Homo sapiens: one gene and its partner. The protein of the gene in region 2 purifies or fractionates together with the protein of the main gene of each other region. This does not show direct contact. Each region holds a gene or a part of one and is shown on either strand. Other genes may lie near its edges.

The links. Proteins that work in one complex are often made in the same cells at the same time.
Region 1: the proteins of SLC26A5 (region 2) and NAA20 purify together in Homo sapiens (affinity purification with mass spectrometry; one large-scale study listed by BioGRID and IntAct). This does not show direct contact.

Annotation. Positions count from the first base shown.
Region 1 is NC_000020.11:20,030,602-20,034,155, reverse strand, and holds the end of NAA20 (N-alpha-acetyltransferase 20), read right to left. Parts: intron 1,649-3,554; coding exon 1,503-1,648; intron 1,055-1,502; coding exon 969-1,054; 3' UTR 501-968; downstream 1-500. UniProt on the Homo sapiens protein: Catalytic subunit of the NatB complex which catalyzes acetylation of the N-terminal methionine residues of peptides beginning with Met-Asp, Met-Glu, Met-Asn and Met-Gln. Proteins with cell cycle functions are overrepresented in the pool of NatB substrates.
Region 2 is NC_000007.14:103,408,154-103,411,810, forward strand, and holds part of SLC26A5 (prestin), read right to left. Parts: intron 3,434-3,657; coding exon 3,267-3,433; intron 2,397-3,266; coding exon 2,232-2,396; intron 1-2,231. UniProt on the Homo sapiens protein: Voltage-sensitive motor protein that drives outer hair cell (OHC) electromotility (eM) and participates in sound amplification in the hearing organ.

The sequences.
Region 1 (3,554 bases), on a different chromosome or scaffold from region 2:
CAGGATTTAAGCAAAGCATTGTGAAGAGGAGAAAAGATCTAGGACTAACAAACAAACAGTATAATGGTATGAACGCAGGTGACTGGGAAGAATTTACTACACGATAAGAAGGGAGCTTCTTAAGTATGCTGGACAGTGATTGCTTCAAGTGTGCATTTTTAAAATACTACGTATGGAAGTCACAATTTAATTAAACGTATCTTAAATGATGATGACCTTTCACAATCCTGATTTTTTTTTTTTTTTTTTTTCTTGAGGCAGGGTCTTACTCTGTTGCCCGGGCTGGAGTGCAGTGGGACGATCTCAGCTCACTGCAACCTCCACCTCCAGGGTTCAAGCAATTCTTGTGCTTCAGCTTCTGCATAGCTGGGATGCCCAGCTAATTTTTGTATTTTTTTTAGTATAGATTTTGGCCAGGCTGGTCTCAAACTCCTGACCTCAAGCAATCAGCCTGCCTTGGCCTCCCAAAGTACTGGGATTACAATCTGATTTAGTTTTACAAATGACTAACAAACTTCAGAAAACATTCATAGAGTCAATAATGTATTATACATCTTAGATTTATACATTTCATATATGCTTTTAAAGCTTCAATTAACAGTTCAATACAAAATTTAAAAACAAATATATGCAGCAGTGGTTCTCAGGCACAGAACTGAGGAGGAGACTGGAGCAAGTCTTTTCCCTAGCATACATACAGTGAATACTATGAACCATGAGAGTGGTATGTTTCCTTCTGACCTAGCTGCCTTTTTGATTGAATTTTGTTACAATGAACAGCTTTAATAGGTATGATATTGCTAACTGGAAACAATGAGATTTAAAATAAATTGATAACCTGTATTTTCTTGAAGTCTTTAAGACCTAAAATGATTACTTTTCTCCTAATAGAGCTCCAGAATCATCCAATGAAAATAATATTGTCCATAAAGCATCTAGAGTATCTGCCTAAGAACCACTGCCCAGGGTTATTCAATGTCTTCAGGCCTCACAGGATGAGGTAATGGTATGATGGATTTCTTCTCAGTATCCCTGGAAAGTGCTTTCCTCATATCTGTAAAGAAGCAAAGTTTAATATAAACACCCAAAAAATGTATTATATCAAATGTAAAGTGTATAGGTAAAGTTCCCATAAGAGGTTTTATCCCTACCCCCACTTCACCATATTCTAAGCAAAATGTATTTATAAATGTCTCCCAATTGCCAAGTGTACCAGATGCTAACCAGACCTCACCCAGTATTCAGCTCACAATACACGTTTTCTTGTTAGCAAAATAATATGTATGTAACAGAGTGAAACAGTAAGGTACAGAAATTAACCATTGGTTAGTTAATAGGTAAGTTAATTACTACTACTAATAGGTTGATAAAGGTAGGTTGAGGGAAATTTAAATTTTAAAGTCAAATATTCTACATTTATTAAAATAATCAAATACTACAATCTGTAGAAAGAATGTAACTGTTTCGACTTCTTGGGGATACTGCCATGGAAGGGAGCTTACCATAAGCGTCCTCATCAGGCTCCCCGTTGCTGGCCGAATAGTACTCTATGACCGTCCTATATACACTGTAGCCCAACTGCTTGTACATGTTAACTGCAACTTGGTTAGATACTCTTACAAAGAGATCCACAAAAAATCCACCCTTTCTTTAAAAGAAAAACAAAAAAGGAAAATGTTAGAATGTGAGAAACCCTAGAAAGTAATAGATACATATTTTTTTTAAAACGTGTTTTTACCTTGCTTTGACTACTACTCAGAATGGTAGTAATAGGACCTTGTAGCTGATTACATGGTAATAGAAATTTGTATTACTTAGGATTTATGACAATTACTTTGCAGTGTAAGAACATGACTTTATGTTTGCATGCTAGTATTTCAAAAGCAACACGTTTTCTTAAAAGATAAACTCAAGGCATTTGTTCTACAAATTCACCACCTATTACAGTTTCTCCTGTTTATGAAGTTTATATACATGGAATCATATATTCTTTTGTCTTTTGCTTCTCTCAGTCGACTAACATTGTAAGAGTCAGCTTCAAGAGTGGCTGGGCTTGTGCACAAGTCATTCACGGTCCTGTTGATACGTTTCTGGCTTTTACTATACAAACGATGCTCCTGTGAATACTTCTGTTGAGTGTCTCACGTAAGGTCTATAGCTAGGAGTCTCACTGTTGTGTCACAGGGCACATCTTCATTAGTTAATACCAAACTGTTTTTCCAACTGGCTTGTACCAACTTACTCTTGCACAGAAGTGAGTAAGCCTCCATTCCACAGCAACAAGGCTTGGTGCATCACATGTTTTTATTTTTGCCAATCTTACAGTGTAACTATATCTCAGATTTTAATTTGTATTTCCAATTACTAACAATGCTGAATATATTTCTGTTGGTTGGCCATTTAGATTTCTCCTTCTGTATAGTACTTAAATCTTTCATACAATTTTTCCCCCGCTACAGTTCTCTATGTATTGTGAATATTCAATACTGTGTAATGTCTGCAAGTATCTTTTTCCAATTTGTGGTTTGTCTTGTCATTATCCTTATGTTATCTTTTGATAAAAAGTTACTTCACTTCAGTGAAGCTGAATATATGAATCCTTTCCTTAGCCTTTTTATGGCCTTTTTAAAAAGTTCTACACTGAGGCCACAGAGACACTCTGCCATATTATATTCAAAAGACTTCTTAGTTTTGGTTTCACATCTAGGTTTTTAATAAATCTGGAGTTGATTTGTGTATGGAATAATGGTAATCTGGGAAATTTTTTTTTCCCATAGGGACATCCAATTGTCCAACCACCTTTACTGAAAAGTCTATCTTCATACTATTGATGTGCAATGCCTCTTCTGTGGTATGTTAAAGTCCATATATTCTTGGGTCTGTTTCTCAAATTCTGTAACACTGGTCTAGATAACTACAGCACTAAGATATAGTCTCACTCTTTACAGTCTGATACCTGGAGGGGCACATCACCCATTTTTGTTGTTGTTCAAGAATATCTTGTCTCTTTTTTGCTCTTTCTGTTCCTCTGTATGTTTCAGAGTCAGCTTAACAAGTACTATAAAAAATGCTTGGGATTTTGACTGCAATTACATTGGAACTGCGGTCGATTACCTGTTTACTGTATCCTCTAATCCAGTGATAGTTTATCGCTCCACTTATCAGGGCTACTTTAATATCTCTCAAAAAAGTTTTTTAAATGTCAGAGAGGTCTTGCATAGCACTTGCTAGATTCTTAAGTACTTAATGTTTTTTCATGCTATGGCATCTTTTTCTAAATTTTACTGTTTATATATATATAAATACAATTGATTTTTATACTGACTTTCTATCCAACAACCTTGCCTACCTTTTATTAATTCTAAACATTTATTTCTAGATTCTTGTGGATTTTATATTTGTATAATCATATCTGTGCAAAATAAGTAAGTTTTGTTTCCTCTCATATGTAAATACAATTGATTTTTATACTGACTTTATATCCAACAACTTTGCCTTTTATTAATTCTAAATATTTATATTCTTATGGATTTTATATTTATATAATCATATCT
Region 2 (3,657 bases):
ACCAATTAGGAGGCATTTTTACCCAGTCTACAACTTTATAGTTGTTACTCTTTTCTTTTTATAGTTGTTATTTATTTATTTATTTATTTTTGAGACACAGTCTTGCTCTGTTGCCCAGGCTGCAGTGCAGTGGCATGATCTTGGCTCACTGCAACCTCTGCCTCCCAGGTTCAAGCAATTCTCCTGCCTCAGCCTCCTGAGTAGCTGGGATTACAGGTGCCTGCCGCCACACCCAGCTAATTTTTGTATTTTTAGTAGACACGGAGTTTCACCATGTTGGTCAGGCTGGTCTCGAACTCCTGACCTCAAGTCATCTGCCTGCCTCGGCCTCCCAAAGTTCTGGGATTACAGGTGTGAGCCACTGTGCCCAGCCTTATAGTTATTCTTATCAAACAATTATTCTTATCATATGCTGATGTCTCAATGTAATATTATAAAATCCAGAAAAGGAACCCTGAAGCTGAGTCCTGAGCAATTGGAAAGAATTAAGGGTTGATAGCAAAGTACTCCAAAGGTAAATACATTGAAAAGCTTTTAGGAGCTCAAAGAGAGAGAAATTATTGTTAGCAGGACTTTGAAGTCAAGAGTGCTGATGTTTGGGAAAGGAACCTAGGAGAACTAGAGAACAAATCCACTTAATTATATCCTAGGGTTACCAACTGGGCACCTCAAATATAGTCAGTTCTCATTTGAAACCCAATAAAGTAGACTTCCCACTCAGCCCACAACATGCACCCTTTCCTATCGATGCCTAGAGTACTCAGTATGTTTTATTTCCTTTGTGACAAGGCATTTCGACAAGTCTCAGAGTAAGAAGTATGATAATAGCTATTATGGGAAACTAAGAATTTTGTTATTTAGAGAATATTCCTAAAGCCTGATTCCATTTTTATCAGTCAGGGACTCAACTTAAATGTCAAAGTGCCTTTCCTAGACCCCTAATCTAAAGGTCTCCCTATTTAACTTTCAGAGCAGCTGGTACTTCTTCTTCATAGCACTCAACACAAATTGTAATTGACTACACATGTATGCGATTAATGGTTTACAATCTTCCCACTGTACTGAAAGCTCCAGAGGGCAAGGCCTGTATCTTCTTAGCTCACAGCTGCATCTTGGCACCTAGCAGTGTCTGGCACATAAATACCTACAAAGGCAACAGGCCTCTCTTTTCAAGGATAGCTTTAACAGCATCTCAGAGGTTTTGATATGTAGTACTTCTACTGTCAATTAATTCTAATTATTTCCTAATTCCCTCTTTATTCATGGGTCATTTAGAAATGTTTTTTGGTTTCTAAATATATGGGAGTTTTAAAGCTATGTTTAGTTTTTGATTTTTTTATTATATTGCACTGTGTGAAAAAACATTGAATTTTTAGAATTTGTGATCAGTTTCACATGATCGATTTCAACATGATCAGTTATTACCATTGTTCCTTAAGTGCTTGCAAATAATTTATATTTTCTCTGTGTTTGGTAAGGGGTCTATATAATTAAAAGATTCATGTTAGTTAAATCTTTTATAGCCTTACTTATTTTTTGCCAGTTTGAACTAGCAGGTTTTGTTTTTTTTTTGAGACAGAGTCTTGCTCTGTCGCTCAGGCTGGAGTGCAGTGATGGGATCTCGGGTCACTACAAGCTCCACCTCCCGGGTTCACGCCATTCTCCTGTCTCAGCCTCCTGAGTAGCTGGGATCACAGGTGCCCGCCACCACACCTGGCTAATTTTTTTCTATTTTTAGTAGAGACGGGGTTTCACTTGTTAGCCAGGATAGTCTCGATCTCCTGACCTCGTGATCCGCCCATCTAGCCCTTTCAAAGTGCTGGGATTACAGGCATAAGCCACCACGCCCGGCCTTAATTAGCAGTTTTTGAGAGAGAAATGTTCTACCTTCATGCCTTTAAATTATTTGTTAGTTTCCAAAAAGATCATGATTTAGTTGTAAGAAAAAGCTCTCTCTTTACCTAGAGTGATGGTGCAGTCACCAAATAAAGACCTAGCAAAAAATTCCTTGTGAAGTAGGCAGTATCACATATTAATAACAGAGATTTTAAGGTTTAGTTCTCTTTGTAACACTCTTTTCAGAAAACCTTAGAATAAATGAATTTTTCCCTTTTTATGGAAATTACTGGAGAAAAAGAAAAATGAGTCTTGAAAGTAAAAAGAGATACAGAAGAGAAGGTTGGGGGGAATAAAGAGAAAAGTACCAGAACGTCAGGTAGTTTCTTACTTACATACACCACGGAAAAGATTCCACTGTACCGCTTTGTTTTAACTCCAAACAGATATTTTAACATGGAGGTGAAGACATGCACAGCTGCTGCGGTGGTAAACCCACGGACCAGAGGCTCTGTGAGATATATGGCCACAAATCCAAACCTACAGACACCTAGGCAAAACTATTTTTTTTTAATGACAAAGAAACAAATGAATCACATGATAGGTCAGGAAGTTATGACCCACAGCAAATATACAAGTTCTTTCTTGACCATTTTCTTTTTTTTTTGAGATGGAGTCTTGCTCTGTCACCCAGGCAGTGGCACAGTCTCAGCTCACTGCAACCTCTGCCTCCCGGGTTCAAGCGATTCTCCTGCCTCAGCCTCCTGAGTAGCTGGGACTAAAGGTGTGTGCCACCATGTCCGGCTAATTTTTGTATTTTTAGTAGACACGGGGTTTCACTATGTTGCCCAGGGTGGTCTCGAACTCCTGACCTTGTGATTCGCCTGCCTCAGCCTCCCAAAGTGCTGGGATTAAAGGTGTGAGCCACCGCGCCCAGCCTCTGGACCATTTTCTAACACTGCAAACTTGTACCTCAAGTGGGTAAGTAGCTAGAAAATCAACCACTGGTTATACAGAAAACAATGGAAGGTCTGGAGTGGCTTGGTGCCCCACAGTGCGCTGACCACACTAATGCCTTCCCTGTCTCTCATTGAGCTGGGGGCATGCTTCATCATGTAGACTAAAGTGCATGATCATGATCACTGGCTGTTTCTTCCAAGCAGAGAGGAATGTCCTCTCCCAGCACTAACCAATCCTGCCGTGTCAAACTTGTCTTGCTTTTGGGATCTTTAAAACACCCACCTGAAGCTTGCTTGCTCGTCACTCATAGTTGTGAATATGGCATGCAGTTGGTCTGCAGTTACTCCCAGAGCTCTGGGGTTTTTCTGGCTGACCCCATCCACCGTGTAGTAAGACCAGCCAAGAGCACTCAGTAGATACTTGTTAGGTTAACAAACGAGACAGTCCATTTCCCCATCTTTGAGCCTTACCTGAATGATTCCTGAAAGTAAGGTCACAGACATGGCGACTTTCACTCTCAAGGCATCTCTGGCCTCTGTGCCATTGGTTGCATTTACTCCTCCTGGAATGACTATATCATCTGGTACTAATCGAACAGCTACACCACCAATCATCAGGCTAATAACAGCAAAAGGACCTGAAATAATGAAGCATGAAGATCCCTGTTCAGGGTTCAGAGTATCTGATATGGTTTTTGCCAGTACACCAAGAGACAAAGGTGAGGTCAAGAAATCATGCTTGAAGGAAGGCTACGCTCCCTTCTTTAGTGTCCTGCCCCTGGTGTATGAGCAACCGTGTGTGTGCGTGTGTGCGCATGCAGACTGTATTTTCCAAAAATAGACATAGCAATATCTTCCATCC